4 linked regions of the Homo sapiens genome follow. The protein of the gene in region 1 interacts with the protein of each later gene in a pairwise test. Each region holds a gene or a part of one and is shown on either strand. Other genes may lie near its edges. The genes, in order: EHHADH, FUNDC1, TRIM5 and C1orf50.

The links.
Region 2: the proteins of EHHADH (region 1) and FUNDC1 interact in binary tests that used the Homo sapiens proteins (3 or more experiments, as listed by UniProt).
Region 3: the proteins of EHHADH (region 1) and TRIM5 interact in binary tests that used the Homo sapiens proteins (3 or more experiments, as listed by UniProt).
Region 4: the proteins of EHHADH (region 1) and C1orf50 interact in binary tests that used the Homo sapiens proteins (3 or more experiments, as listed by UniProt).

Annotation. Positions count from the first base shown.
Region 1 is NC_000003.12:185,243,554-185,251,264, forward strand, and holds part of EHHADH (peroxisomal bifunctional enzyme), read right to left. Parts: intron 4,965-7,711; coding exon 4,861-4,964; intron 1-4,860. UniProt on the Homo sapiens protein: Peroxisomal trifunctional enzyme possessing 2-enoyl-CoA hydratase, 3-hydroxyacyl-CoA dehydrogenase, and delta 3, delta 2-enoyl-CoA isomerase activities. Catalyzes two of the four reactions of the long chain fatty acids peroxisomal beta-oxidation pathway.
Region 2 is NC_000023.11:44,532,681-44,540,391, forward strand, and holds part of FUNDC1 (FUN14 domain-containing protein 1), read right to left. Parts: intron 5,863-7,711; coding exon 5,787-5,862; intron 1-5,786. UniProt on the Homo sapiens protein: Integral mitochondrial outer-membrane protein that mediates the formation of mitochondria-associated endoplasmic reticulum membranes (MAMs).
Region 3 is NC_000011.10:5,674,689-5,682,399, reverse strand, and holds part of TRIM5 (tripartite motif-containing protein 5), read left to right. Parts: intron 1-2,161; 5' UTR 2,162-2,222; coding exon 2,223-2,639; intron 2,640-3,230; coding exon 3,231-3,326; intron 3,327-3,965; coding exon 3,966-4,196; intron 4,197-7,711.
Region 4 is NC_000001.11:42,769,538-42,777,248, reverse strand, and holds part of C1orf50 (uncharacterized protein C1orf50), read right to left. Parts: intron 3,687-7,711; coding exon 3,600-3,686; intron 2,513-3,599; coding exon 2,381-2,512; intron 2,041-2,380; coding exon 1,855-2,040; 3' UTR 1-1,854.

The sequences.
Region 1 (7,711 bases):
TTTTAAAAAAATTTCTGCCTTGATTTCCTCATTTACCTAATGAACATTCAGGAGCAAGTTGTTTAGTTCCCATGTATTTGTAGAGTTTTGAGAGTTCCTCTTGCTACTGATTTCTACTTTTATTCCACTATAATATGAAACGATACTTGATATGATTTAGATTTTTTTGAATTTGTTGAGATTTGATTTATGGCCAAGCATATGATTTATTTTGGAGAACGTTCCATGCACAGAATGTCCCATGCACAAATAGAAAAATGTGTATTTTGCGGTTATTGCATAGAATGTTCTATAAGTGTGTCTATTAGGTCCATTTGGTCTAAAGTCTAGTTTAAGTCCATAGTTTCTTTGTTGATTTTCTGCCTTAATCATCTGTCTAGTGCTGTCAGCGGGGTTTTGAAGTCCTCCCTTATTATTGTATAGCTGTCTATCTCTTTTATTAGGTTGAGTAGTATTTGTTTTATAAATCTGAGTTGTCCATTTTGGGATGCATATATATTTAAGACAGCTATATCTTCTCCTTGTATTGAACCCTTTATTATTATATAATACATTCTTTGTCTTTTTACTGTTGTTGATTTAAAATCTGCTTTATCTGATGTAAATATAGCTACTACTGCTCATTTTTGTTTTGTGTTTGCACAGTGTATCTTTTTCCACTCCATTGAGTTTGTGGGTGTTTTTACCAAAGGGTGTCACTTGTGGGCAGAAAACGATCAGGTTTTGTTTTTTAATCCAATTTGCCTGTCTATATGTTTAAGTGGAGGATTTAGGCCATTTATGTTCAGGGTTAATATTGATATATGAGGGTTTGTTTCCGTCATAATATTGTTACCTAGTTGCTTTGTTGTCTCAATTTACACTACGATTTTTATATCTACATTTATAAATGAAATTAGCCTGTAATTTTTCTTTTCCATACTGTCCTTGTCAGGTGTTAGTATCAAGGGTATGCTGCCTCAAAAAATGAGTTGGGAAGTGTACTGAGTTGAATAGTGTTTACCCAGAAGCTGTGAGTGTGACATTTGGAAAGAAGGTCTTCGCAGATGTTATCAAATTAAGATGAGGTCATGCTGAGTTAGGGTGGGCCTATAGAAGATCAGGAAAATTTAGACATGGAGGAAAGAAAGCCATGTGATTAAAGTGAGACTGGAGTGATGCATCCATAGGCCAAGGATTGCTAGAAACCATAAGAAGCTAGAAGAGGCAAGGAAGGATTCTTCCCTAAAGAAAACAGAAGAAGAATGACCCTGCTGATATCTTGATTACAAACTTCTATCCTCCAGAGCAATGAGAGAATAGATTTCTGTTGTTTTAAGCCACTTGGTTTGTGGCAATTTGTTATGGTGCTCTAAGAAACTAATAGAGAAAGTGGCCCCACTTTTTTGATTCTCTGAAATGTTTATGTAAAATTGGAATATTTTCCTTGACTTTACAGTAGACCTTGCCAGTGGAGTCTTCAGGGTCAAGTATTTACTTGGTGAGATTTCTGATTACTGATTGAATTTCTTTAATGATTACAGAACTATTTGGGTTTTCTATTTCTTCTTGAGTTAATTTTGAGAAGCTATTTTTTTTACATGTTCATAATATTTTCATTATCTTTCTTTTTTCACTGTTACAATAACTTTAATTTATCTTGTATTTTACAGAAGTCTATGAACGATTTTAAAAAAGCACCTCTTTACCCCATATCATGTTTCTCTGACAGTTGTTAAAGTAGTCTATACATATGTCAACAGCTTGAGCATCAGCATCTTGCAAGGATTTCACACCAACCAGCCACTAGCCAAAGAACTTGGCAGCTTTTTTATCTTGCTTTTAATACAATGGTATATCCACTCTGATGGCAAACTGGTTTAGCCACATATCCACAACACGCTTTGAAAAATCAGTGATTAGCAAATTAGTTAGCTTTGGCACAGGGCTGTGCTCGCTTGCCCATGACAGTCTGGAAGCCAGTTTTGATACTGGCAACAGAACATCTAGAATGACAAGTTTCACACTGTAGGAAATAAGAGTTGCATGTCCTTCTGCAGGATTGTGTCCAGTGATCAGCATGTGTGACAAGTGACATACTCCTTGATAAATCTTAAGACATTTTCTATCTGTTTTTGTTGGAATCTTCCTTTACAAGTTGGTTATTACCATCTATAGAACCACTTGTACCCAATTCAACCAACAAAAATGCAAGTGTGCTGACAATATAATAGTTTACAGATATCTGTAAAGTTGACAGAAGAAGTTTTCTTGGTTCCTACTCAGACGACCTGTGGAGGTTGCATAACGAATTTCTTTTTCTCCCCAGCAACCATATCTGGATTCTTTTCCCTCATGATGTTGAACACACAATTCAGCAGCTCCTCTTATGTGTAGTCTCCTTCTGAGCCTGCCCAAGCAGGGCCTGTCTGATTACTGAATGAGATACCATCATCTTTTTTGCTATCTTCATCTTCTAGAGCTTCATCTTTCTCTAGTAGTTCATCCTCATCTGGGAACTTGACATTCTTCTTTTTCTTCTTTTTATTCCAAGCATAATGTCAAGGTCATCCTCTGGTTCAGCTGGTTCTTGAACATCACTTTCAATCTTAAGATCCTTTACAACTTCTTCAGCTTCATCAATATCAAATATCTTTTTTGTTTTTTTTTCTTTTTCTTTTGATTAAAGAAGTTCAAGTCATCTAGATCATCAGAAGCATCGTTTTTCCTACTGTCCTCATTGTCAGCTTCCAAATCTTTGTCCTCAGTTGGCTCTGGCTCCAGACTTTTGTTTCTGAGGGCTGCGTTTCCTGTTTGAGTATCCCCTTCCTCATCTAACATAAAAGGCTTCTTCTTCTTCTTTTCTTCTTGCTCACAGTAGGATCAAAAATCATCTCATCTCCAGATATGGATGCGATTCCAGTGGGCTCCGCATGGATGGGAAGTCAGACAGGTCAGCCCCCAGGCCCCGTGGCAGCGCTGCTCCTGCTGATACCTCTCCCACCACCGCACTAGGCTCTTGCATCAGCCAAAGGGCCATTATCTTTCTTAAAGGCTACAGTATCTGCAATGATATCCCTTTCATCATTCTTTATATGCATTGCTTGGTGCCTTCTCTTCTCCTTCAATCTCTCCAGAGTTTGTCAATTGTATTAGTCTCAAAAAACTAACATTGTTGTTCCTCTTGATTCAAATGTTTTCTATTTCATTAATTTCTCCTCTTTATTATTTCCTTTCTTCTACTTGATTAGGGTGTATTTTACGGTTAGTTTGTCAGTTCCTTTACATAAATACTTAACTCATTATATTTCAGCCATTTTTCTTTTCTAATATATATTTTTAAAGCTATAAATTTTCTGATAAGTTTTACTTTAGCTGCATCCCTCAAGTTTTATATTATGTTTTCATTGCCATTCAGTTCCAAATTTTTTCTAAATTCCATTATTTCTGTTTTTACTCAGAGGATATTGGAAATTAACTTCCAAACATATGAGAATTACTAGTTATATTTTTGTTATTGATTTCTAGCTTAATTGCATTGTTGTCAGATAATGTATTCTTAATGAAATTTATTTAGATAAGATTTTATAATTCAGTATCTGGTCAATTTTTGTAAATGTTCCAGATGTATTTCAGAAGAATGTATATTCTCCCATTTTGGGGTGCATTGTTCTATGTAAATGTATTAAGTCAAGTTTCATAATCCCTAATACTTTTTTAGAAGAATAATTTTTTCTGCCTCCAAACTCTAATTACATTCTCTCATCTACCTTCTTTCTTACAAAGAAATATCAAGTTCTTTATCATTCTGAGCACTCTTCCCATGCATCATCGTCATCATCTTGGGTGACAAACCTTAAATTTCCAAACAGTGAGTAAGCCATTTAATAACTGGTTAAGGTTTGGGACATTATATTAATCTCTCCCAGGCTCAAAATCTCTTCTTACCTGTAAATGAGGATTGTAGGACTAACTGAGAATTAACATATAACATGTTTAAAAATACTATTATTTTTATTATTATTATTTAATAAATAACCTACATGGTACTGGCATATAACAGGCAAGATAAATGGTAATATTATAATGATTCACATTTTTATATTTATTTATTGCCATGATTCTAACATCTGTGTCTTTTCAGACTACCATTAACACATATTAAATTTCTCTGGCTACAGTAAGGTTGAATAGGCCCCCATATCCATGTGACTTTTGTCAAAGGGTATAATGTATGAATATTAAGGAAAAGACGCCATATATGCCATTGAATAAATCACCATTTCAGCATACTTTTGCCATATTTTGTCAATAATTTTGCATCTTCACACAATAACCCAATAAAGCAGTGCCATGGTCACTGAGATGGGTGACTATCGGAAGAAAAATGAATTCTATTATAAGACTCTGTGTGAATTAAACAATAACATTTATTGACCATCTTCTTTGTGTAGGTACTGTAGTAGAGGCTTTCAGATATGTTATCTCGCTTAATGTCACAAAAACCCCTTAAAATAGATATTATTGTTCCCACTTTATAGATAGAGAAATTGAGGTTCAGGAAGTTAAAGAGATTTGCCCAAGCCCACATATGGTGGAGATACATGCAATGCAGGTATATATCAGCAGGTGTATAACAGCCATCAAGTCTGGAACTAAATATACTCTAAAAGCCCAATCCACAATAAAAGAGACTAAGCCCTTCTCTGGGTCTCTCTTGTAATTCCTGTCCCTTTCTCCACAGTGTTACTCATTCTCACTCAAGTCTGCCATATCCATTACCTACACTAAGTTATTACCAACAAGCACAGCTAATGCAGTATTGGTCTCAGTCTGTGGCTGGATTCCAGAGATGGTGGGAGAGGGTTAGACTTGAGTTACCTGCAGAAAATTTGCCCTCTGCTCCACAAATCACAATGGCTTTTATTGTATGGTCTATTACAGCTTTCTGTAGTCCTTCTTTTATGTCACGGAGTAAAGTCGTACTAAAAGAAAACAAAATACATGAAGTAAATCAGTCAGAATTAAATTCCTACCATTCAGAGTGTTTTCCTTTCCTAAAAATGAAAAATTAAACACACACATAATGGATAAAAACTGTAGATACTTCTCAATAAAGCTTCCAACAAATAATATGTCTACTATGACTATTAAATTTCTTCTACAAATAATATATATGCCTATGATTAATTAAGCACTGACCAGATTAAATTAATCCACTTTTTAAAAATGTAATTTTCCTGCACTGTGCTTTCACTTTGACCGCTTAAAATTGACACCAACCAATTTAAAAATATTATTACATGTCTTCTATATATTGTACAAGGAGTTATCCAATACTTGTACATAATTTATCATGTAAGGCACACTAAGATATCTGAGTGCTGTAATAAAGGTACAAAGAAAAAGTGATGTTGAAGTTCAGAGAAGGGTGAAATTACTTTCAGTTTTTCATATTGTTAAAATATAAGAAAATTAAATGAGAAACAGTCTAGGAGCTGTGGCGGGGGCTGTGAGTTACCTCAAATATCCATTCCTCTCCATCGTCTTCATAGTATTAAAACACTTGGTTTTTACTTGAATATATGTGATATGGTTTGGCTCTTTTTTTTTTGAAATGGAGTCTTGCTCTGTCACCCAGGCTGGAGTGCAGTGGCGCGATCTGGGCTCACTGCAAGCTCTGCCTCCCGGGTTCACGCCATTCTCCTGACTCAGCCTCCTGAGTAGCTGGGACTACAGGCGCCCGCCACCACGTCCGGCTAATTTTTTGTATTTTTAGTAGAGACGGGGTTTCACCGTGTTAACCAGGATGTTCTCGATCTCTTGAGCTCGTGATCCACCCACCTCGGCCTCCCAAAGTGCTGGGATTACAGGTGTGAGCCACCGCGCCCAGCCTGGTTTGGCTCTTTATCCCCACCAAAACTTCATTTCAAACTGTGATCCCCACGTCAGGGAGGGACCTAGCGGGAGTTGATTGGATCATGCCAGTGGTTTCCCCCTGCTGCTGTTCTGTGAGGGAATTCTCAGGAGATCTAGTGGTTTATAAGTTGCAGTTTCCCCTGCACTCATGCCTCTCTCCTGCCACCTTGTGAAGAAGGTACTTGCTTCTCCTTTGCCTTCCACCATGATTGTAAGTTTCCCCAGGCTTCCCCAGCCATGTGGAACTGTGATCAATTAAGCCTCCTTCCTTTATAAATTACCCAGTCTCGGATATGTCTTTATAGCAGTGTGAAAATGGACTAACACAAAAATATGGTTGCCCAAAATAAAGACTATATTTTCCAGCCTGCTTTACAGTAAGGTCTGCACAAGGAACTAAGTTCTAGCCAATGGGATGGAAGCATATTTGGTATATGCAACTTTGGGGAAGAGTTCTTAAAGATTTGGGTATGCTTTTCCCTTTTTCTTTCCTCCCTATTCCTGGCACCAGTGATGGTTAGATCAGGAGCAGCCACCTTGGATCAGGAGGTAGAAGCTATGTATTGAGGATGGTAGAGCAAGAGATAGACAGAGAAAATAATTGAGGCCCCTGTTGATTGTGGAGCAGCTGTATCATTCCAGGGCACTGCTGTGAGAGAAATTAGCTTTTTATTGTCTAATTCACTATTATCTTCACTATTCTGTCAGTGACAGCCAAGCGTAATCTTAACTAAGATAAGATATAAAGGCAAGATAGTGGAAAGATAGGGCATGTAGCAGATTTTGCCAAGTTTTAATATATGAGGAAGTCATCTGCAGAAGAGATAGCTAAAACCAAGACTGAATGAGTCTACCAAAGGAAAAGAGAGCTGAGGGCAGATCCTCTGGATATATCTTCATTTAAGAAGTGGGACAAGCTCAGCAGAGTGATTCAGCAAGTGAGCTCAAAGTCACAAAGACCAAGAGAGAAAATTTGTGAAGAAGGAGGGGATTAATAAGTACCAAGCAATAAGAGAATCTAGGGCAAGTGGTGAGGAACTGCTTAAAAGGAAAAACCACAGAACCAGATTCCAATCAGTTTTGCCTTGGAATTCCAAGTATTCTGAGTAAAATCTCTGTTCTTTAGTACACAGGGTTAAAAATAAATTTTAAAACAAAACAAACAACAACAAACTTCTGTAAAGGCCATATTGTTAAGACCAACAACTATTAGTTAAAACCCCAAGAAATAAAAAGGATACTTGCCCTTATTTATAATGATTCCCTTACACCTAATTACTTTTCACCTCTTAACCTAGATGAAATCAGACAAAACCTCTTGGCTTCAGCTGGTTAATTAGAAGCCAAATCTGACCATGAAAAGCAAATTCAGAACCATTATATAACATCAAAAAGTCCAAAAGGCACACATTTCCTTCTGAATAAACAATGCTTACAAAACTAGCCAAAATTAGCTCAATCAGTGCCACTGAGGAGAAGAAACCAGCTTTTCCCATTTCAACCTATCTTCCTTTTTTATGTTCATAATTTTGCAAATATCAAAAACAGGAAAAAAATGAAAATAGCTATAACAGATACGCACTTTACTAGATTCAAGCTGACAGAGAGAGTCATAGCAATGTAAAGGCCGCAGAAGTTATGAAATTATTTTCTCCTGTTAATACTGTCAGGCATGAAGAAATAGAGTCTGGAGTAGAGACAGCATTTCATGACTACTGACCAAAACTCTTCAGCTTCTTTGACTATAGAAGGTCTTTCCTTTTTTTTTTAGACAGTTTTTTTTTTTAAACCAAAAGTCATCAAATCAAGTTTG
Region 2 (7,711 bases), on another chromosome or scaffold:
TAGCTGGGATTACAGGCATGCACCACCATGCCCGGCTAATTTTGTACTTTTAGTAGAGATGGGGTTTCACCTTGTTGGCCAGGCTTGTCTCGAACTTCTGACCTCAGGCGATCCGCCCGCCTCGGCCTCCCAAAGTGCTGGGATTACAGGCGTGAGCCACCATGCCTGGCCTAAATATGTATATTTTTGCTTTGTCTTAGACAAGTGTGCAAAGCTGTATATAAATGGCTAGTCACTGCAGAGTTGTTTGTAAAGCTGAAAAAATAAACTGCTAGATGAACATTCTGTGTAGATGCTAAGAATTGCTTGTAGGACAGACTATTTGGATCAACACTCTGAACCTGCAGTCTATTAAGGCAGTCACTTCCAACTAGCATCTGGTGATCTAAGGAAAACTTTCAGTCTCTGCCACTTTCTAAGAAGCTTCTATCTTCGAATTAGAGAAGACATTCAACTATACCATCTCTCACAAGCCTTCTTGGTCTATAGACATGCAATTAAAATGGTTTCCAAGAATGTTAGTGCTCCAGTAATATGATGTGTTTCTAAAAGTCTTATTGAAGGGACGGTCTTCTAACCATTGCATTGGTTGAAACAATGGGTTGGAGGAGGACAAGTCACACATAATAAATACATCCCACCAATCTCTTAAAAAAACAGTATCCAAGGCCAGGCGCAGTGGCTCACGCCTGCAATCCCAGCACTTTGGGAGGCCGAGGCAGGCAGATCATGAGGTCAGGAGATCGAGACCATCCTGGCTAACACAATGAAACCCTGTCTCTACTAAAAATACAAAAATTAGCTGGGTGTGGTGGCAGGCGCCTGTAGTCCCAGCTACTCGGGAGGCTGAGGCAGGAGAATGGTGCAAACCCGGGAGGCAGAGCTTGCAGTGAGCCGAGATCGTGCCACTGCACTCCAGCCTGGGTGACAGAGCAAGACTCCGTCTCAAAAAAAAAAAAAAAAAAAAAACAACAAAACAACAACAACAAAAAAATAGTATCCAAGTATTAGCCATTAAAAATTTTTAAAAAAGATACTGCTCACTGCATCCATGAAGGAAAAGCAAGAAACAGAATGCTAAAGTCACATTAAAAGAACAACAGCCGGGCATGGTGGCTCACATTTGTAATCCCAGCACTTTGGGAGACCGAGGTGGGTGGATCGCTTGAGCTCAGGAGTTCAAGACCAGCCTGGGCAACATAGCAAAACTCCATCTCTACTAAAAATACAAAAAATTAGCCAGGCATGGTGGTGCATGCCTGTAGTCCCAGCTACTTGGGAGGCTGGCGTGAAGAAATCACCTGAGCCCGGGAGGTCAAGGCTGCAGTGAGCCAAGATCGCACCACTGCACTCCAGCCCAGGTGAACAGAGTGAGACTCTGTCTCAAAAAAAAAACAAAAAACAAAAACAACAAAAAAAACTTGTTGAAGTTGAAGAAATCTCCCAGAAAATAGACCAAAAAGATAGAAGTGGAAAATTGAAAAGATTATTAGTGTTCTACCAAATCTAAGAAAGAAAAAAAAAAAATTATTAGGCCAAGCAGTCAGTGGCTCACACCTGTAATCCCAACATTTTGGGAGGCCAAGGCAGGAGGATTGCTTGAGACCAGCCTGGGCAACATAGCAAGACCTCATCTCTATTTAAAAAAAATTAAAAATAAGTCTAAAACTGTAAAATAAATAAAGAAAGAAAAATTAGACAACTGGTCCAGGAGATCCATATAACTGGAACTACAGAAAAAAAGATGGGAAAATTAAAGAGCAGGATATCATTAACTAAATAAATATAAAGAAAATTTCCCCAAACTGAAAGGGCCCCTTGAGTTTCCAGCACAGTGGATGAAAATAGGCCCACAGTAAGGCACATCACTGGGAAAAATCAGAATACTGAGGACAAAAGAAAATCCTATAAGCATTAACTGAAAGGAAAAAAAAAAACCCACACATGTAAAGGTTCAGAAATTAGAATTACTTTAAACTTTTAACAGCAACACTGGAAGTCAGAAGACAATGGAGCAATACCTAAACACAGCTATTAATAAATTATCAAACAAATGTGAGGATAAAATGAAGAAATTTTCAGACATGCAAAGTCTCAAAAACTATAGTTCCCATTCTCATTTTCTACGAAAGCTATTGGAGGATGTGTCCACCAAAACAAGAGAATACATCAAGACATAGGATAGGCCAGGTGCAGTGGCTTACACCTGTAATCCCAACACTTTGGGAGGCCAAGGCGGGTGGAATGCTTGAGCCCAGGAGTTCGAGACCAGCCTGGGCAACATAGCAAGACCTCCCTATTATACAAAAATACAAAAATTAGCGGGCATGTGGCACACGCCTGTAATCCCAGCTACTTGGGAGGCTGAGGCAGGAGGATCCCTTGAGCCCAGGAGGCAGAGTTTGTAGTGAGTGAGATTGTACCACTGCACTCTAGCCTGGGCAACAGAGCAAGACTGTCTCAAAAAACAAACAAACAAACAAAAGACATAACATACAAGAAACAACCCAAAACAAAAAGGGAATATCCAGAAGGTATTGAAGAGAGATCCCAGGGTGAGAGCCGTATACCAGGCCTAGAAAGCAAACAGGACAGATGACTCTGGGACCAAGTTTGCCCAGACGGTTAAACTGATGAACTATTTGATACATACGACAATGAAAGGTGATTTACACAACTAGTAGTTGTCTAAAGAAATAATACTGGGCCAGGTGCGGTGGCTCACACCTGTAATCCCAGAACTTTGGGAGGCCGAGGCGGGCAGATCATGAGGTCAGGAGATCGAGATCATCCTGGCTAACAGAGCAAAACCCTGTCTCTACCAAAAAAATACAAAAAAGTTAGCCGGGCTTGGTGGCGGGCGCCTGTTGTCCCAGCTACTTGAGAGGCCGAGGCAGGAGAGTGGCGTGACCCTGGGAGGCGGAGCTTGCAGTGAGCTGAGATCGCACCACTGCACTCCAGCCTGGGTGACAGAGCAAGACTCTGTCTCAAAAAAAAAAAAAAAAAAAAAAAGAAAGAATCCTGGCTGGGCGCGGTGGCTCACGCCTGTAATCCCAGCACTTTGGGAGGCCAAGGCGGGTGGATCGCCTGAGGTCAGGAGTTCGAGACCAGCCTGGCCAACATGGTGAAACCCCATCTCTACTAAAAATACAAAAATTAGCCAGGCATGGTGGCAGGTGCCTGTAATCCCAGCTACTTCGGAGGCTGAGGAAAGAGAATCGCTTGAACCCAGGAGGCGGAGGTTGCAGTGAGCCGAGATTGTGCCATTGCACTCCAACCTAGGCAACATGAGCAAAACTCTTGTCTAAAAAAAAAAAAAAAGAAGAAGAAAAGAAATAATCCCGGCCGCCCGTGGTGGCTCACGCCTGTAATCCTGTAATCCCAGCACTTTGGGAGGCCGAGGCGGGTGGATCAATAGGTCAAGAGTTCTAGACCAGCCTGGCCAAGATGGTGAAACCCCATCTCTACTAAAAATACAAAAATTAGCGGGGTGCTGTGGCAGGCAGCTGTAGTCTATAATCCCAGCTACTTGGGAGGCTGAGGCAGGAAAATCACTTGAATCCGGGAGGTGGAAGTTGCAGTGAGCCAAGATTGCGCCACTGCACTCTAGCCTGGGCGACAGAGCGAGACTCTGTCTCGAAAAAAAAAAAAAAAAAATCCCAAACTTCCTAGTAGAAATAATGGCCAAAACCTTCCCAAACATGATTAAAGACATAAATTCACAGGCTCAAGAAGTTCAGTGAACTCCAAGTAATCAATCTCAGTGAACTCCATATAATGAATGATCTAACACAATTATGAAAAAAGGGAAGTAACTACACTCAGACGATTGAGGGAGAGGGAAGAAAGCATTCAGGTATGTGAGATTTGGGGAAGTATAGGGAAAACAAAACAGGTCAATAAATGACAGCTAAATTTTCCCATTCCATAATGGGAAGCCAATAGTTCACACCTAAAACTGAAAGATCAAGAAATGTCCAATTAACTTGTTTAGGGAAAAAGAGATTACTACCTTAAGAATCAGTTAAGAGTGCAAACTGGATGTCTCAAGGGATGGAAAAATGGGGGTAGTGAGAGAGGTGGAGGATTACTCTAATCTGTAACAAGCCTTGCACAAGTACTTGGCCCTTTGAATTATAAGGATGTATAACTCCAAAAAATTAAAACGAAGAGACTGTGTACTTTAAGATGGCAGTGTAATAAATATCTATTGGAAAACACTTGATATTGTTACTAGAAAAGCTTTAAGTTCTAAATAAACTAATATTTACCTTTAAATATAAGAAAGGTCATAAAAATATGAAAGTGGGCCTAAAGAATATTAGGCAATTAGCCTAAAAGCCATTTGTTACTTTATTTCCCCTTTCACTTTCCTTCTACTGAGTTTTCAAGGTTAGTCGTATTTGTGGGAAAAACTGGTTTGATGCAGATAGGTCCTATGTTGCTCTGCCTTAAAAACTTCAAAGACTACGTGTACTAAATGCGGAAAAGTGGGAGGTGGCAATGACAAAATGTGGATTTGAATGGTGCATATTGAGTGAACTGAAATGGACTTCTGAAAAACTGACATGCAGAGTGGATTAAAATATACACTTCTCTCCATTCTGTGAACATTTTAGGAAACTCTGCTTCAGTCCAGTACCCTTTTACACTAACAGAAATGACAACTGAGTCTTCAAAATAGCTATGGAATAAAATATGCTCTTGATTCCATATAAAACCAAGTCAAAATCAGCTTAAGTAAAATTATCATCTGTACTAATGCTGGCATATTCATCCAAAGAACTAAATTTAGGTATTAATCATTTTTTTTACCTCTTACCACAAGTAATAAGCAATTATTCGTAATAATGTCACCAAAAGAAAGAAAACATATATATTTTTAAAAGGCTGTTTAGTGAACAACTCAAAATCTGTGCTTCATACATACAAATCTAGTCCCCTTGTACTACAACTACACTAGTTATTACATGATCGATGGCTTAGGTGCTGAATTCAGATTCTGGTGGCTATGAACATCAATCATTTTTAAAATCTAGTACAAGTGACAGTTCTCTGTATCTTTAAAAGTGCTGCTCACATTCATTCGTAGAGATTTTCAATTTTTGGATTTACTATATTTGATCTTCAAGGAATGATATTTTTGAAAAAATACATGCCAAACAGACATGAATGCCAGATGATGCCCTGATAAACATCCTCTAATGGCAAAGCATTTTTAGATCTTATACTTACAAGAATATGAACAAAACTAAAACTTCAAATCTATCTGCCTCAGATATAAGATTATGGATTTTTGTTTTGTTTTGTTTTGTTTGGAGACAGAGTTTTGCTCTTGTTGCCCAGGCGGGAGTGCAATGGCACGATCTCGGCTCACTGCAACCTCCGCTTCCTGGGTTCAAGCAATTCTCCTGTCTCAGCCTCCCAAGTAGCTGGGACTACTACAGGCGTGCACCACCATGGCAGCTAATTTTTGTATTTTCAGTAGAGACGGGATTTCACCATGTTGGCCAGGCTGGTCTTGAACATCTGACCTCAAGGGATCTGCCTGCCTCTGCCTCCCAAAGTGCTGGGATTACAGGCGTGAGCCAATGCGCTCGGTAATGGCTGTCTTTTTAATAGCTGGGATCAAACTATGCTTAATAACTCAGAAGTATTTAAATTGTTATCTTTCAAGACAAAAGTCAGCTTCCAAAACTCATTGTAGCTCTTCCATAAACTGATGCCTAAAAGAAAAATTCCACCTTCTATGAAAGCAAAGGCAAGTGCTTAAAGCTCTGACATACCTGAAGAAGAAGAAAGCCACCACCTACTGCAGTTGCTGCAAGTTTTCCAACTTTCTGGAACAGAAATCCTGCACACCTTTAATCAAATAACAAAAGATGAAAACAATCAATTATGTACTAAACCCTCTCCCTCTTCTACTTTTCATTGCTTTCCTAATAAAATCTTATGTCTTTGCATTTCTTTTGATCACATCCCTTACCTGCTCAGAAACCTTCTCAGAAACCCCTCAGTTATACAGGCTAGTCAAAAATGCACAATCTAAAATGTCTGAAATTTGCTTCAAAATAAGGGACGGAGAGAAGAGGAGGAGAATTTATAGAAAAAAAAGAGCAGCTACTAAAATAACGACAAGTACTCAGGGGTTCATTATATTCCTCCTACATTTGTATAAGCTGAAACCTCCCGTAATAAAAGTGATGTTTTGCTTAATACAGTCAAGATGGTCCATACACCTGGTTGACCCCCACCTTCGGCTCCAACCCCATTAACCTCCAAATAGGTCATCACCTTTGCTCAAGCTATTAATCTCCCTGCTTCTAGGGGTTTCTTCCTAGCTCTACCTATCTAAAGCTTTCCTACCATTCCTACCCTTTCAGGTCCAGCTGTTGTTCCACTCAATAACTATACTTCAGCCCACATTTCTAAAGGCCTCCTTATCTATATCTACCTATTTTTATATTAAATGTTTTTTGTGTCTCATCTACCCTGTGTCAGCTCATACTTCTTTTGTCATTAATTCGCTCCTTCAGTGAGCTCACATTCCCTTCAGCATTCCAGATCCACACTGTGCAAATGAATCCTATATTTCTAACTCTAGCCTTCTGCACTGGGTTGAATGGTGTCCCCCTCAAAATTCATATCCTTCCCAAAACCTCTAAATGTGACCTTATTTGAAAACAGAGTCACTGCAGATGTAATAAGTTCAGATGAGATCATACTGGACAGGGTGGGCCTTTAATCCGATAAGGACGCACACAGAGGGAAGACGACATGTGAGGACAACAGAGGCAGAGACTGGAGTAATACGTCTACAAGCCAAGGAATGACAAGGATTGCTGGCAACCACCAGAAGCTAGCAGAGAAACATAAAACAGATTTCTCCCTCTGAGCCTCCAAGAAGGAACAAACCCTGTTGACATCCTGATTTCAGACTTCTAGCCTCCAGAACTGTGAGAGAATAAATTTCTGTTATTTAATTTAATTAATTAATTTATTTTTTAGATGGAGCTCGCTCTGTCACCCAGGTTGGAATGCACTGGTGCCATCTCAGCCCACTGCAACCTCCGCCTCCCGGGTTCAAGCAATTCTCCTGCCTCAGCCTCCTGAATAGCTGGGATTACAGATGCCCGCCACCACACCCAGCTAATTGTTGTATTTTTAGTAGAGACGGGGTTTCACAATGTTGGCCAGGCTAGTCTTGAACTCCTGACCTCTGGTGATCCACCCGCCTCGGCCTCCCAAAGTGCTGGGATTACCAGTGTAAGCCACCGCACCTGGCCTCCACAGTTCTATATATTTTATCTCCAAAACATTATTTGACTGTCTTCTCCTTTCCACTCTCAAGGTCATCATTACCTTGCTTCCAGAACACTTTAAGGGCCCTCTAACTGGTCTCAACACCTCCCATCTCTCCTAGCAAGGACCCATCCTAATAGTTTTAATTTTTTGTCATGATCAAAAGCCTACAGCTACCTACAGCAAAATAAAATCTCCTCAGCCTCCTATACATGTCTTGAATTGGTCTAAATTGCTAACTTGTTAGGTTAGTGCCTATTAACTGTTCCTCCTTAATATACACCATAATATCACATCAGTTTTACATCCTAAGAAAATTGCAAAAATTTACTACACTGAATATAGTCATTGCAACAAATCGCCTGTATAATTATTAGAGTTGTATTATACAGCTCCTGGACCAACACCT
Region 3 (7,711 bases), on another chromosome or scaffold:
AATCATTAACCTTGCTCCTCCCTCTCCGTGGGCCGTATCTGCCCCCCAAAAGCAGAGCTTAGGTGAGATACGAAGAGCAGGAGAAGCATGTGGAAAGAATACCCAAGTAGCTGGGATTACAGGCACCTGTCACCAAGCTCAGCTCATTTTGTATTTTTAGTAGAGACAGAATTTCACCATGTTGGCCAGGCTGGTCTTGAACTCCCAGCCTCAGGTGATCCGCCTGCCTTGGCCTCCCAAAGTACTAGGATTACAAGCGTGAGCCACCACACCCGTCTGGTTAAGTTAAATATTAAAAGCTGAAGCCGGGCACGGTGGCTCACGCCTGTAATCCCAGCACTTTAGGAGGCCGAGGCAGGTGGATCACAAGGTCAGGAGTTGGAGACCAGACTGGCCAATATGGTGAAACCCCATCTGTACCAAAAATACAAAAATTAGCCGGGTGTGGTGGTGCGTGCCTGTGGTCCCAGCTGCTCGGGAGGCTGGGGCAGAGGAGTCACTGGAACCTGGGAGGCAGAGGTTGTGGTGAGCCGAGATTGTGCCATTGCACTCCAGCCTGGGCGACAGAGCAAGACTCCGTCTCAAAAAAGAAAAAAAAATATTAAAAGCTGATAGAGCCAGTGCCCTTATACAAAGGCTGGAATGTAACAGAAGCCCACTGAGAGTTTTGCCCAGGCCTTTCCTGGGCCTTGAAGCATGACAAGATAACGAAGGAATCGATTAGGACCTGTTTAGGATTAAACAAGTTTTATGGGGGTCTGAAGGAACTCCCAGGCCTCCACAAACAAGTTTATTGAGGGTCTGAAGGAACTCCGCAAACCTTAATGATTTAGCAGGAGAGACAAGATAAGGGTAATCACCCCAGCACCCGGACCCATCTAGATTAGGTAAATTTACTGAGGCACCAGAGGAAGGTCTTAAAACTCAGACCTTAGTTATAGATTTGAAGAAGTTAATCACTTATGTTTTTAGATGAATAATGCACACCTATACGTAGACGTATAGCTTAGAAGGTATATAAGCTCTGGAAAACTTTGTAATTTTGAGTTGGTCTGGAGATATTTTCTAGGCCTTCTCCCTGTACGCAGAAATAAAAATTCGCTTCTTTCCCAGTAAATCTGCATCTCGTTATTGGGCCGCAAGAAGCAGCAGCCGACCCTCCGTTTGTTCCGGGAACAGAATCATCTCATCTAATATTTTGAGACTTCTCTCTCAAGACTGATATCCACTGCCTCTGTGCTTCTAGTTTTCAAGTATCCAACATGTGTGGTCCACTGAGTATTTCTCTATCATCACCCTCTACACCATGTCTACACCTTTAGGCTCCAATAAATGTCCTTGGCAAACTTTCAGGATGAGACTCCTCAGAACCTCCCAGCTGTTGTGGATTCCTCTACTTCCACACCCCAATTGCTCTGGGTATTAATTGGATATATGCTGTTATCTCCATTTGTCATTGATTAACCAAAAGAGTAGCAAAGAGGCCAGTGAAAGAGGACCCTGAATACGAGGTCATCTCAGGTCACCATACTGAAGATAAATAATTTTTGTAAATCACTTATTATGTCTATTTATACATTTGATGAAACAGTCATTCACTCTGCTGATAATAAGAGCAATCATTGCAAACGTACAGTGCATGGTGAGATTTGTTACACTGCACATAAGGTAGTCAGAGCAGGTATTTTTGATAATATAACATGTAAGGAGAGAATTTAATAAAATCGTACTAACATCAGAGAAACATTTCATGCTGAGAGAAGAGCAAATGTGAAAGCCCTGAGGCATAAGCTGTTTGGTGATTTTAATACTGAGGATGTGTTTTGGCGTGGGAAAGAAAAGCCAGGAGAGATGATGGGTCACACAAAGATCTTGGTAGAAAAGACCTCAGTCTGTTTTCTATTCATTGAAAGTAAAGAAAAATGATAACCAATGCACAGATAAGAACAGAATTTGTCATATGACATGAACTGGCAGTAAAGTATTTAAGGTGATTATGAAAAGCCCTTATTACCAGGTAACCAAACACCTTTTCTTATTTCTCCCCTTTTTTTGTCCTTAATTATTTTCATCTTGCCCATTTTCTAATTGTGCACAATCAATATCCTTTCTATTTCTACCTTTCTTACTTGGTCCCATTTTAACCTTCCCAATCATGCAGGGATCTGTGAACAAGAGGAACCTCAGCAGCCAGGACAGGCAGGAGCAGTGGAATAGCTACTATGGCTTCTGGAATCCTGGTTAATGTAAAGGAGGAGGTGACCTGCCCCATCTGCCTGGAACTCCTGACACAACCCCTGAGCCTGGACTGCGGCCACAGCTTCTGCCAAGCATGCCTCACTGCAAACCACAAGAAGTCCATGCTAGACAAAGGAGAGAGTAGCTGCCCTGTGTGCCGGATCAGTTACCAGCCTGAGAACATACGGCCTAATCGGCATGTAGCCAACATAGTGGAGAAGCTCAGGGAGGTCAAGTTGAGCCCAGAGGGGCAGAAAGTTGATCATTGTGCACGCCATGGAGAGAAACTTCTACTCTTCTGTCAGGAGGACGGGAAGGTCATTTGCTGGCTTTGTGAGCGGTCTCAGGAGCACCGTGGTCACCACACGTTCCTCACAGAGGAGGTTGCCCGGGAGTACCAAGTAAGAGACTGGGATGGAAGGAAGAGAGGGCAGAAAATGGGACCAGATGGAAAATTTTCACTTTGCCTTTGACATTAACTGCCTTGTCATGATAGACCTGAGACCCGGGATTATTTTTTTCATGCTATGCTTAACTTCTGAGGCTTTAAGGATGGTTTTTTGCATTTCACCCAATTACAGGAGAATAATCCTAGAGTATATATTCCTGGCCGGGAGTAAATATTTTGTACCTTGGGTTAGATGGGTAGAGATTTGGTGTCCAAGAAAAGCTCTGATTACCCCTTTCAGCAGGAGAGTAACAGGAGTGGGTTGAGATGTAAGTTTTTTCCTTGCTGCAGGATTAGTTTTTTCTTCTAGGACAAAAAGAATCAGTCTACTCATGGTGAGGAGATGGGGAGGTCTATTACCTGAGATGTAGGGAGCACATTCACCAATGTAAGTTTTCTTCCAAGTCATGGATTCTCATTGCCATTCTCACAGTTTCTGCAAATTTGTTTCTTCTGAGATCAACCTGATTTATTTCATGTTTATACTCTATCTAGGTGCTGGAAAACCTCATAGCTTGACTATGGTGTGATTCCTTTCTCACAGGTGAAGCTCCAGGCAGCTCTGGAGATGCTGAGGCAGAAGCAGCAGGAAGCTGAAGAGTTAGAAGCTGACATCAGAGAAGAGAAAGCTTCCTGGAAGGCAAGAGGATGTGGTTCCCGAAGGAGTTAGCTAGAAATCTGGGCAGGACCAGGGGAAGGAGCTTTCTTCCTCTTTATTCCCTGACATTTGATAAGTCCAGAAGTCATTTGATTAGTCCTCTTCATCCTTTCCCTGATGGGGTGTGGTGGCTGAGGAGTGAATATGTCACAGTGAACACAGTAGGGAGCTCTTTACATGAAGGATCTCTCTGGTGAGGATGGCTAGTGAATCCTGCATTCTATTTTTGTGCTACTTTTTGAGTCCGTGACTCTACTTGGGGAAGACATTTGGCAATGGCTCATGATTCTGTCCTCAGTGTTCAACTTTTGGCAGGGAGTTTGAGCTTGGGCTGAGAAGTAATACAGGCAGGCATGAGTGTCCTGCATAGCTGTGTGAAAGGTAAGCTACATCCAGGTAACCCATTTTGATGCAGGATGAACCTCAATATACCCATTCAAGGTCATTGTTTTAAAATGTCATGAAGGAAAAGAAATAGGAAAAGGCAGCTTTCCTAAGACCTACTCTCCTGCTACTATGTCCCCTCCTTGTGAGAACTCCCCAAAAGAAACAGCTCCTTTTCTGGCTAACAGCCTCTGCCTGGTAGACTGAGTGCCCCTTTCTCTTCTCTTATCTCTGAAGACTCAAATACAGTATGACAAAACCAACGTCTTGGCAGATTTTGAGCAACTGAGAGACATCCTGGACTGGGAGGAGAGCAATGAGCTGCAAAACCTGGAGAAGGAGGAGGAAGACATTCTGAAAAGCCTTACGAACTCTGAAACTGAGATGGTGCAGCAGACCCAGTCCCTGAGAGAGCTCATCTCAGATCTGGAGCATCGGCTGCAGGGGTCAGTGATGGAGCTGCTTCAGGTAAAAAGTGGAAAGAAGCCTGAGCACTGAGATTAAAGAAAAGTGAAGGCTATTTCCTTCTCTGCGTTGCTGTGCTTTTTCTAATATTAACAATGTTCTCTGCAGGACCGCTTTTCTGAATCAATTGCTGAAGTTATAAGAATAATTGAATGTAGAAGTAGCAAGAGATAATCCCATTTTTATTAATTTATCCAGAGCAGTAGAAAAATTTGACGTAGTGGAGATGATCAATTAGCTCTAGTCATGTTTGATAGGTTCCTATTCTCTGTATTCTAGTGTTGAGACTTACCAGTGCAGCTTTTCATTGCTCAGCTTAGCCACTGGCAAACAAATACACGTCAAAATACAAGATGCTTTTTATTTTTTTCCTTCATGGAATTAATTGAGACTTTTTCCTTTTTTTTTAATTTTCTGAAAAGAATTAAATAACTGCTATCATTTCTTCTTTATATGCTCAATAGAATTCACTAGTAAAGGCTGGGCGCGGTGGCTCACGCCTGTAATCCCAGCACTTTGGGAGGCCCAGGAGGGCCAGTCATGAGGTCAGGAGGCCCAGGCGGGCCAGTCATGAGGTCAGGCGATTGAGACCATCCTGGCTAACACGGTGAAACCCCGTCTCTACTAAAAATACAAAAAATTCTAGATCCCTGAGGAATCGCCACACTGACTTCCACAATGGTTGAACTAGTTTACAGTCCCACCAACAGTGTAAAAGTGTTCCTATTTCTCCACATCCTCTCCAGCACCTGTTGTTTCCAGACTTTTTAATGATTGCCATTCTAACTGGTGTGAGATGGTATCTCATTGTGGTTTTGATTTGCATTTCTCTGATGGCCAGTGATGATGAGCATTTTTTCATGTGCTTTTTGGCTGCATAAATGTCTTCTTTTGAGAAGTGTCTGTTCATGTCCTTCGCCCACTTTTTGATGGGGTTGTTTGTTTTTTTCTTGTAAATTTGTTTGAGTTCATTGTAGATTCCGGATATTAGCCCTTTGTCAGATGAGTGGGTTGTGAAAATTTTCTCCCATTTTGTAGGTTGCCTGTTCACTTTGATGGTAGTTTCTTTTGCTGTGCAGAAGCTCTTTAGTTTAATTAGATCCCATTTGTCAATTTTGTCTTTTGTTGCCATTGCTTTTGGTGTTTTAGACATGAAGTCCTTGTCCATGCCTATGTCCTGAATGGTACTGCCTAGGTTTTCTTCTAGGGTTTTTGTGGTTTTAGGTCTAACGTTTAAGTCTTTAATCCATCTTGAATTGATTTTTGTATAAGGTGTAAGGAAGGGATCCAGTTTCAGCTTTCTACATATGGCTAGCCAGTTTTCCCAGCACCATTTATTAAATAGGGAATCCTTTCCCCATTGCTTGTTTTTCTCAGGTTTGTCAAAGATCAGATAGTTGTAGATATGCGTCGTTATTTCTGAGGGCTCTGTTCTGTTCCATTGATCTATATCTCTGTTTTGGTACCAGTACCATGCTGTTTTGGTTACTGTAGCCTTGTAGTATAGTTTGAAGTCAGGTAGTGTGATGCCTCCAGCTTTGTTCTTTTGGCTTAGGATTGCCTTGGTGATGCGGGCTCTTTTTTGGTTCCATATGAACTTTAAAGTAGTTTTTTCCAATTCTGTGAAGTCATTGTTAGCTTGATGGGGATGGCATTGAATCTGTAAATTACCTTGGGCAGTATGGCCATTTTCACGATATTGATTCTTCCTACCCATGAGCATGGAATGTTCTTCCATTTGTTTGTATCCTCTTTTATTTCCTTGAGTAGTGGTTTGTAGTTCTCCTTGAAGAAGTCCTTCACGTCCCTTGTAAGTTGGATTCCTAGGTATTTTATTCTCTTTGAAGCAATTGTGAATGGGAGTTCACTCATGATTTGGCTCTCTGTTTGTCTGTTGTTGGTGTATAAGAATGCTTGTGATTTTTGTACATTGATTTTGTATCCTGAGACTTTGCTGAAGTATACCATTTGACCCAGCCATCCCATTACTGGGTATATACCCAAAGGACTATAAATCATGCTGCTATAAAGACACATGCACACGTATGTTTATTGTGGCATTATTCACAATAGCAAAGACTTGGAACCAACCCAAATGTCCAACAATGATAGACTGGATTAAGAAAATGTGGCACGTATACACCATGGAATACTATGCAGCCATAAAAAATGATGAGTTCATGTCCTTTGTAGGGACATGGATGAAATTGGAAATCATCATTCTCAGTAAACTATCGCAAGAACAAAAAATCAAACACCGCATATTCTCACTCATAGGTGGGAATTGAACAATGAGATCACATGGACACAGGAAGGGGAATATCACACTCTGGGGACTATGGTGGGGTGGGGGGAGGGGGGAGGGATAGCACTGGGAGATATACCTAATGCTAGATGACGAGTTAGTGGGTGCAGCGCACCAGCATGGCACATGTATACATATGTAACTAACCTGCACAATGTGCACATGTACTCTAAAACTTAAAGTATAATAAAACAAAAACAAAAACAAAAAAAACACAACAGAAGAAAAAAAAAAAAAAAGAAATGCAAGAAAGCTAGCACCCCCAGGGGCATCCTTCAACCAATGGGGTTGGGAGTTGATGGAGAAATGCCTCAGCTCTCAGTGTTTCGGGCAGAGATTCTGGGGCATTCCCAGGAGGTTTGGTGGGATCATGATCCCATAATGCCCAGAAACAACCCCAACAGCTTACTCATACATTGGCTTCTCCTCCTCCCTGTCTTACCTCCCTGCTCCCTCATTCCTGCTTCCTGGGGTCAGGTAAATCACCTGGACCCAGGTCCTTGTCTCAGGCTCTACGTTCAGTGTTTCTCATGCTGTATTCCTCGGAACCCCAGGGCACCTTAGGATGTGTCTACCCCTCTCTCACCTGCATTTGATTTAATGCTCTGTTGTCATCATCTTGAAATGTTTAATAAATTTTGAACAAGGGGCCGCATATTTTCATTTTGCATTGTACCCCACAAATGAAAAAAAATAATACAAAAAATTAGCCAGGCGTGGTGGCGGGCACCTGTAATCCCAGCTACTTGGGAGGCTGAGGCAGGAGAATAGTGTGAACCCGGGAGGCGGAGCTTGCAGTGAGCCAAGACTGCACCACTGCACTCCAGCCTGGGCAACAGTGCGAGACTCCATCTCAAAAAAAAAAGAAAACTGCTCTTATCCCAATTTTCAAGAATACAATACATTGTTAACTATAATTGCCACATTCTGCAATAGATCTCTTGAAGATAGTCATCTTTTCATTCTGAAGTTGGTGTCCTTTTACCAATATCGGCCTCAACTCTCCCTACACCCCAGCTCCTGGAAACCCCTCTTCCACTCTCTACTTTTATGAGCTCAACTATTTTTTACATCTACATACTAAGTGATGTTATACAGTATTTGTCTTTCTGTTCCTGACTTACTTTACTTAAAGTCCTCCATGGTGTGAGATAGTCTTCTGCATATGGCTATCCAGTTGTTCCAACACAACTGAGAATGGTCCTACCACTGA
Region 4 (7,711 bases), on another chromosome or scaffold:
TGGCGTGCGCCTGTAATCTCAGCTACTGAGGAGGCTGAGGCAGGAGAATCACTTGAACCAGGAGGCGGAGGTTGCGGTAAGCTGAGATTGAGCCACTGTACTCAGGCCTGGCAATACAGCGAGACTCTGTCTCAAAAAAAAAGAAAGGAAAGAAAAGAAATTCTGCTAACAATTTAAGTGAGCTTGGAAGCAGATCCTTCCCCACTCAGGCCTTCAGATAAGAACAGCCCTGACCAATAACTTGATTTCAGCCTTCCAGGGTTTCAGAGAAACTGTGAAGCAGAGGACTCAATGAAATGGTGCCTGAACTCCTAACCTGTAAGCTCTGAAATAAATAGGTGTTGCTTTAAACCATTAAGTTTGCAGTAATTTGTTTATCTGTAACTAATAAAGCACCTATTCAAAATGTGTCATCATCATGCAGGTCAGAACCTTCTGAAAACCTGGGAAACTTTCTGTAGTCAGAATCCACTACTCTACCACTAATGTCTCTTCCATCCGGCTCTGCAGCACCTGAGCAAAAGACCTCTGCAGCTGAGTCCAAAGAGCATTCCCATGTGAACCGAGCAACCAAGTATCATCGGAGTGAGTTTGTTAGATTCTAGCCCCATCCTGTGCTAGGCCTTAGGTAGACCTCTTACAGCTCACAAGAAATGCAGTTTATGAGGAAAGACCATGAATCGGGGGGCGGCCCGGGGAGGGTATTACCAAACAGATCAGCATCAGGAACATCATTCCCAGAGAGAAATTTGGCCAATTGTCAGTTCAAGTACACATCTCTCCCTCCTTTTACAGCATATTGCAATAGATTATAGCCATGCGAAATAATCCATAAACTTAGCTAATTCCACCAAACAGATAGGAAAGAAGGTAGAGTCCTACAAGAGCCTAGTCAGAATAAGAACTACAGTAATTTTGCCAAAACCCTGTTAAGTTCTTGAATAATTCTGGTCAAAATGGATTTCAATCTGAGTTAACTCACAGTCAACAATTTGGCTGTTTTTCTTGCTTCTCACTCTACTGCCTTACTCTCTTCCACAGTGTTAAGTAGCCATTTAAATGGGTTTGTTCTGCTGCAGGTGGCTGAGCCTGGGATTTCCAACTTGGGAGACTACACAGTGGACTCTATAATGATTAGTGGCAGCATCCAATGTCTCTTCCAAGTCTAAAATTTGTGAGTTTCAAAGTTGACTCTCCCCAAACCTGGCCTTTGCTGCCTCAGATTCTGTCACTCTAGCAAGGCAGAGAGAGCAAAAGGGGCAAGACAAACCTCATCAACAGCACAGAAATCCCAGAATCACACACTCTCTGGTCCAGCCAAGCCAAGTGTTTTTTTTTTTGTTGTTGTTGTTGTTTTTTAAATCACCCTCCATTACTCAACATTCTCGTTCCCAGATGAATTTTAAACTGGAGTTGCACCAACTGTGAGACAGCCTCAACCCCAATGTTAAATACTACCAGTTATATATATATATATATATATATAAAAGACTGAAAACAGTTCTCTCTGGAAAACGATCCACCAACCTTTTTATGGGAAGAAGGTCTTCTCTAACACTTTAACTTAAGGGAAGAAGTGATGGAGAGGAAGAAGGAAAGTACACTGGCCAATACTCTGAAACTGACTGACTTGGGTATCTGTGGTCCAAAGAGGATCCCGAAAGACAGTGACTCTGTCTCAATGATTATTCCCATCCCAATTAAAAGTCATAATGACAGCATTTACATTCACACAGGGTCTCTTTCCAAGAAGTTTGTGAGTCACCTACATGTCTTCAATTCTCAAGGCAACAGTGGGGGCAACAAGGAGGTTGACAGCCAGGTCCTGTGAGAGCTGTTTGTCAAAGCCCACTCTCAGTGAGTCAGTCCCTGGAAGTTGGGTTCAGTGCACGGAGGCAGGGCCACTGACTGGCTTAGCAACGTGTCCATCATGCTGATTTTAGCATCTTGCTTCTCAATGTCCTCATACGGAGTCCAGGACAAGTCATGCTGTAGTTTGTAGGCACCAAGGAAGTCATGTGGACAACTTGTCCCCCATTCCTAGAGAAGGCAAAGGAGGCAGTTCCCATCAGCGTGGGTTGTAAACAAACTGAGCTCATTTCCTAATCATGCCACAATCTCTTTTTTGGCTTTTCACTTCATACTAGTCAGAACAACCTTTGGAACGCAGTTACCTTACACATCAGATCCCTCCCTTAATGAAGAAAATGAGTGAAATAATTTAAGCACAGGTATATTTTTTAGAGTCATGTCTGGGCTCACATCACCCCCAATTTTCTAAGAAACCATATACCAATCCACATGTCTACATTTTCACACATATACCAAGAATTTCTCAGAGGCTGGAGTAGATTTTTGGGCAAACAATGTATGTTCTTACCTTTGGAGAAATGATGGAAAAATACTGCTGACCACTCTCCCGTTTATAGAGATAGTAAATGTTGCCAGGTTTTTTCACTATATTACAAGCTACATGGTGCAGGTTGGCATCTCTGTGAGCATCTTCCAGTACCTATGAATCACAGATATGTAACAAATTAGGTATTGGAGATAACAGGCACCCACATTTGGTGATCATCCCAATTAAAATTTGGAAACCATTCAGTGCTTAGGATCTTGCTCCCCCATAGCAATGAATCACTTCTGAGATCCAGATTATTCTGAAGAAACAAAAATTAGACTATGCTGCTATGCTGTAAAAATGCCTTTAGAAAAATTATATTTCAAGCCAGGCACAGTGATTCATGCCTGTAATCCTAGCACTTTGGAAGGCCATGGCAGGTGGATCACTTGAGTTCAGGAGACCAGCTTGGGCAACATGGCAAAACCCTGTCTCTACTAAAAATACAAAAAATTAGCCAGGTGTGGTGGCATATGCCTGTACTCCCAACTACTTGGGAGGCTGAGGCTAGAGGATCACTTGAGCCCAGGGGGCAGAGGTTGCAGTGAGCTGAGACTACACCACTGCAGTCCAGCCTGTGTGATACAGTGATACCCTATCTCAAAAAAAAAGATATTTCAAAATGTTGAGCATTAATGACCCTGGGTAATTTTTAAGCTTCTTTCCTATTTTTCTGTGCTAAGTACATTTCTTTTATAAATGAAAACATAATCCCCTGTTAAATGCTTTACCTCATGAAACCTTCTCCTGGAAAAAACAAAACAAGGGAGGCTGAGGCAGGCAGATCACCTGAGGTCAGGAGTTCAAGACAGGCCTGGCCAACATGGCAAAACCCCATCTCTACTAAAAATACAAAAGTTAGCAGGGTGTGGTGGCGGGCACCTGTAATCCCAGCTACTTGGGAGGCTGAGACAGGAGAATCGCTTGAACCCGGGAGGCAGAGGCTGCAGTGAGCTGAGACCATGCCACTGCACTCCAGCCTGGGCAACAAGAGCAAACCTCTGTCTCAAAAACAAACAAACAGACAAACAAAAACTTATACTTAACCTCTTAAGCTTATTCCTTCTATTTTACTCAACACCTCTACATTTCTAGGAGGTATTAAAGACATAAAAAGTCACAACGATTATAAACAAGTTCAGCCAATCCTGAGAACTAAATAAAGAAAATGAAAGCCTGTCTAACAGTCATTCCTTACCTTCCTGGCTTGTTCTTGCAAATGTTGGATTTGCTCAGCTATGACTGTCAGCTTGTTGGTGGCATTTGCTCGGATGAATTCATCAGCCTACAGGTGAGAAAAAACTAAACTGTGGGTTGAAAGAGGAAAAGACTTCTATGATGTTCTTATCTTGATCCCAGGGTTATGTTAATATTTTGCTTCTGCCTAAAATATTTTTCCCATTCTTGCCACTGCCCCATAGCCTCCCACTCATCCGAGGCCCCACTCAGATAGCACTGTCATGAGAAGGCCACCCTGACATGACTCCACGCCACAGAGTTAAGTGCTCTCTTCTATTTCCCATAGCTTTCCACCCCTTCGCTATGAACTGCAGTTACACTGAACTTCTTTGGTTCTCCAGCATGCCTTCTCTCTTTCTCTCTCCTGCTACCAAATATACTGAATATATCCTCTCCTCCAACCAATCCATTTTTCCTCCTGCTCTTTACCTAACAAACACCACACATTTCTCAGGTCTCCATTTTCTCATGTTTAAACACTTGTGAAATCAGGGATGGATTTTAAATAATTAAAAGACACTTGTGATCTGGCCCTTATCATCTGCTAAGGTAGAAATCTAGATACACATAGAAAGTATTCGGGTTTTTCTGTGTGACCCCCACACCCCCTGAACTGAGAAAGTATGCGTTAATCTGACCATTTCCTCAGTTATTTACATCACAACTACTTAAATGTTAACTTATATGTGCATTTCTAATTATTACTTAAAATGTATTTTAAAAGACTGCATTATGATGTGGACCTGAAACAGAGTTATAATGTACACACAAGACTACCTGTCACGTGCCACAAAGTGCAACTGAAGGCAATGGACATTTTTTTTTTTTCAGACAGTTTTCGTTCTTATTGTCCAGGCTGCAGTGCAATGGCGCAATCTTGGCTCACTGCAACTTCTGCCTCCTGGAGTCAAGTAATTCTCTAATGTCAGCCTCCTGAGTAGCTGGGATTACAGGTGCCCGCCACCATGCCCAGCTAATTTTTGTATTTTTAGTAGAGGCAGGGTTTCACCATGTTGTCCAGGCTGGTCTCGAACTTCTGACCTCAGGTGATCCGCCCACCTCGGCCTCCCAAAGGTCTAAGATGACAGGTGTGAGCCACTGAGCCCAGCCAGGACATTTCTTAAAATAGATCAAATTCTCAAAGCTAGGAGAGACTAATGTGACAAATTCATGTGCTGGGAAGGATTACCACTCAGGCAATAGAATTCTGTCAAAAACTTCCACCTTACTTTTAAGAAAAGCTGATTATACACAATTAAGGTAAAGAAATGAGGAGATTAAACTAGAACCTGAACTAAGAAATATTAAAGAGAATTTGCTGGTTAGTTGAGGAGTCTTAAGGCAAAGTTCAGGTATAAACCAGTGTTATGAGTGAACAGAAACCACACAAGTAAACTGAGTCATTTATCTGTCCCACAGATGTATATTAGGCAGCTACTATGTGTCAGACACCACACTAGGCACTGGGTGTACTGGCAAACAGGAAAGAGAAGTCCCTGCCTTTGTCAAGATCGCAAGTCAAGTCTAATACCGTTCAACAGAAATATGAGGCAAGTTGCATATAAAATTTTAAATTTTCTGGTAGCCACGTTAATAGTAAATTAATTCTAACAATACTTTTTTTTTTTTTTTTTGAGGCAGAGTCTCGCTCTGTCACGGAGGCTGGAATGCAGTGGTGCAGAGGCTCACTGCAACCTCCGCCTCCCGGGTTCAAGCAAATCTCGCACCTCAGCCTCCTGAGTAGCTAGGACCACAGGCATGCGTCACCATGCCCCGCTAATTTTTGTATTTTTAGTAGAGATGGGGTTTTGCCATGTTTGCCAGGCTGGCCTCGAACTCCTGGCCTCAAGTGATACGCCTGCCTCAGCCTCCCAAAGTACTGGGATTACAGGCATGAGCCACCGTGCTCAGCTAATACATTTTACTTAACCTAATATATCAAAAACATTTTCATTTTAACATGTAATCACTATTTGTAAGTTGTTAATGAAATATTTTGCATTTTTTGTTTGTTTTTGTTTCTTTTTTTGGTCCTTCTCAGTCTAATCCATATTTTGCATTTGATATTAAGCCTTCAAAATATAGTGTTTATTTTGTACTCACAGCACATCTCAATTTGGATGCTAAATTTTCATCAGAAATACTTCATCTGTATTTAAACTTAATAAAATTTATATGTGAAAAAGTTGATTCACATACTCAAATTGTTCCAATATACTTGAGTTCCAATAATTGAAGTAATTATCAGGTTTTTTAAATTCAAATTAATTAAAATCAAATAAAATACAAAATTCGGTTCCTCAGCCACACTAACAACGTAACACAAGTGCTTAACAGACATAATGTTGCTAGTGGCTACCTAAAGCACAGCTCCAGTGAGTAATAGATACCAAAAAGTAAAGATGATTAAAGCTAATATTATATGTACTCATAACAATGCACTGTTATGAAGGAAATAACCACAATTATGTCGTAGAAGCAGGTTAAAGATAACAAATGAGTTAAGTAAAAAAGCTACTTCATTTTTATGAAGTTTAATAATAGGGAGTGGTGGGGAATTGGAAAGTATATGTAGCCTAGAGGTATTTGAATTCAATTTAATAATACTGTCATTTGGATGGGGTAGGGTACGGTCTTCTTCAGACAAGAAGGCCTCACCAAGGATATAACATTTGACTTGGGTCTAAATGAAAGGAGAGGACCGACCATGAAAAAAGCTGGAAAAAAAAAAGTTTGCAGGCATTTGAGGCCAGTGCAGCTGAAGAGTAGTTAGTGATGGGCAATGTGTAGAACAGGGTTTAAAAAGAGAGCAGAGACCAGATTGTGCAGTCTTGTAGCCCATGGTAAAAGAATTTGCATTTTGTTCCAAGAATGAAAGCCCAGGTGTGGTGGCTCACACCTGTAATCCCAGCACTTTGGGAGGCCGTAGCGGATGGATCACCTGAGGTCGGGCGTTTGAGACCAGCCTGACCAACATGGAGAAACCCTGTCTCTACTAAAAATACAAAATTAGCCAGGCATGGCGGCACATGTCTATAATCCCAGCTACTTGGGAGGCTGAGGCAGGAGAATTGCTTGAACTCGGTAGGCAGAGGTTGCTGTGAGCCAAGATGGCGCCATTGCACTCCAGCCTGGGCAACAAGAGCGAAACTCCATCTCAAAAAAAAAAAAAAGAAAGAAAGAAAGGAGGAGCCATATATGGCCAAGGAGAGAGTAGGTATTTCTAGAGCTAAGGTAGTTCCAGATTAGGGGTGGCCTTATAATAACCCTCCCTTTTCTTAAGGTGTTAGCAATAAATCTCATAAACAAAATTTGAATTTATATTTTGAAGAGTTAATATAAAATGCAAAATATGGATTAGTCTGAGGTCCAAAAAAAGGAAAAAAGAAACAAACAAAAAAAATGCAAAATATTTCACGAACAACTTAAAAACAAAAGAGCCTCATAAAAAAGAAAGGAAGGGAAGAGTACCTACAACTACTAAGCACTAACCCTGGCCTCAACTACTCTGAGGCCCTTTACATTCATCTCATTTACTTCTCACAACACCTTTATGACGCTGGAGATGATAACCTCACTTTCTCATTTTAGCAATTAAGACTCACAGACATGAGGCAACCTGTCCAAGGTTTCACAGATAATAAACAGCAAAGGATCTGAACACAGGTCAGATTCCAAAATTCATGCCTTAATACCAGGCCTCCTGAGCTTTCTGAACACACACCAATACCTGGGTCAGTCTTGCTAAAAAAGTACTTTTTTTTTTGAGACGGAGTCTTACTTTGTCACCCAGGCTGGAGTGAAGTGGCACAATCTCCACTCACTGCAACATCTGCCTCCCAGGTTCAAGTGATTCTCCGGCCTCAGCCTCATGAGTAGCTGGAATTACGGGCGTCTGCCACCATGCCCGGCTAATTTTTTGTATTTTTAGTAGAGACAGGGTTTCACTATGTTGGCCAGGCTGGTCTTGAATTCCTGATCTCGTGATCCACCCGCCTTGGCCTCCCAAAGTGCTCGGATTACAAGCGTGAGCCACTGCACCCAGCCCACCACCATTTTTTTTTCTTTTTA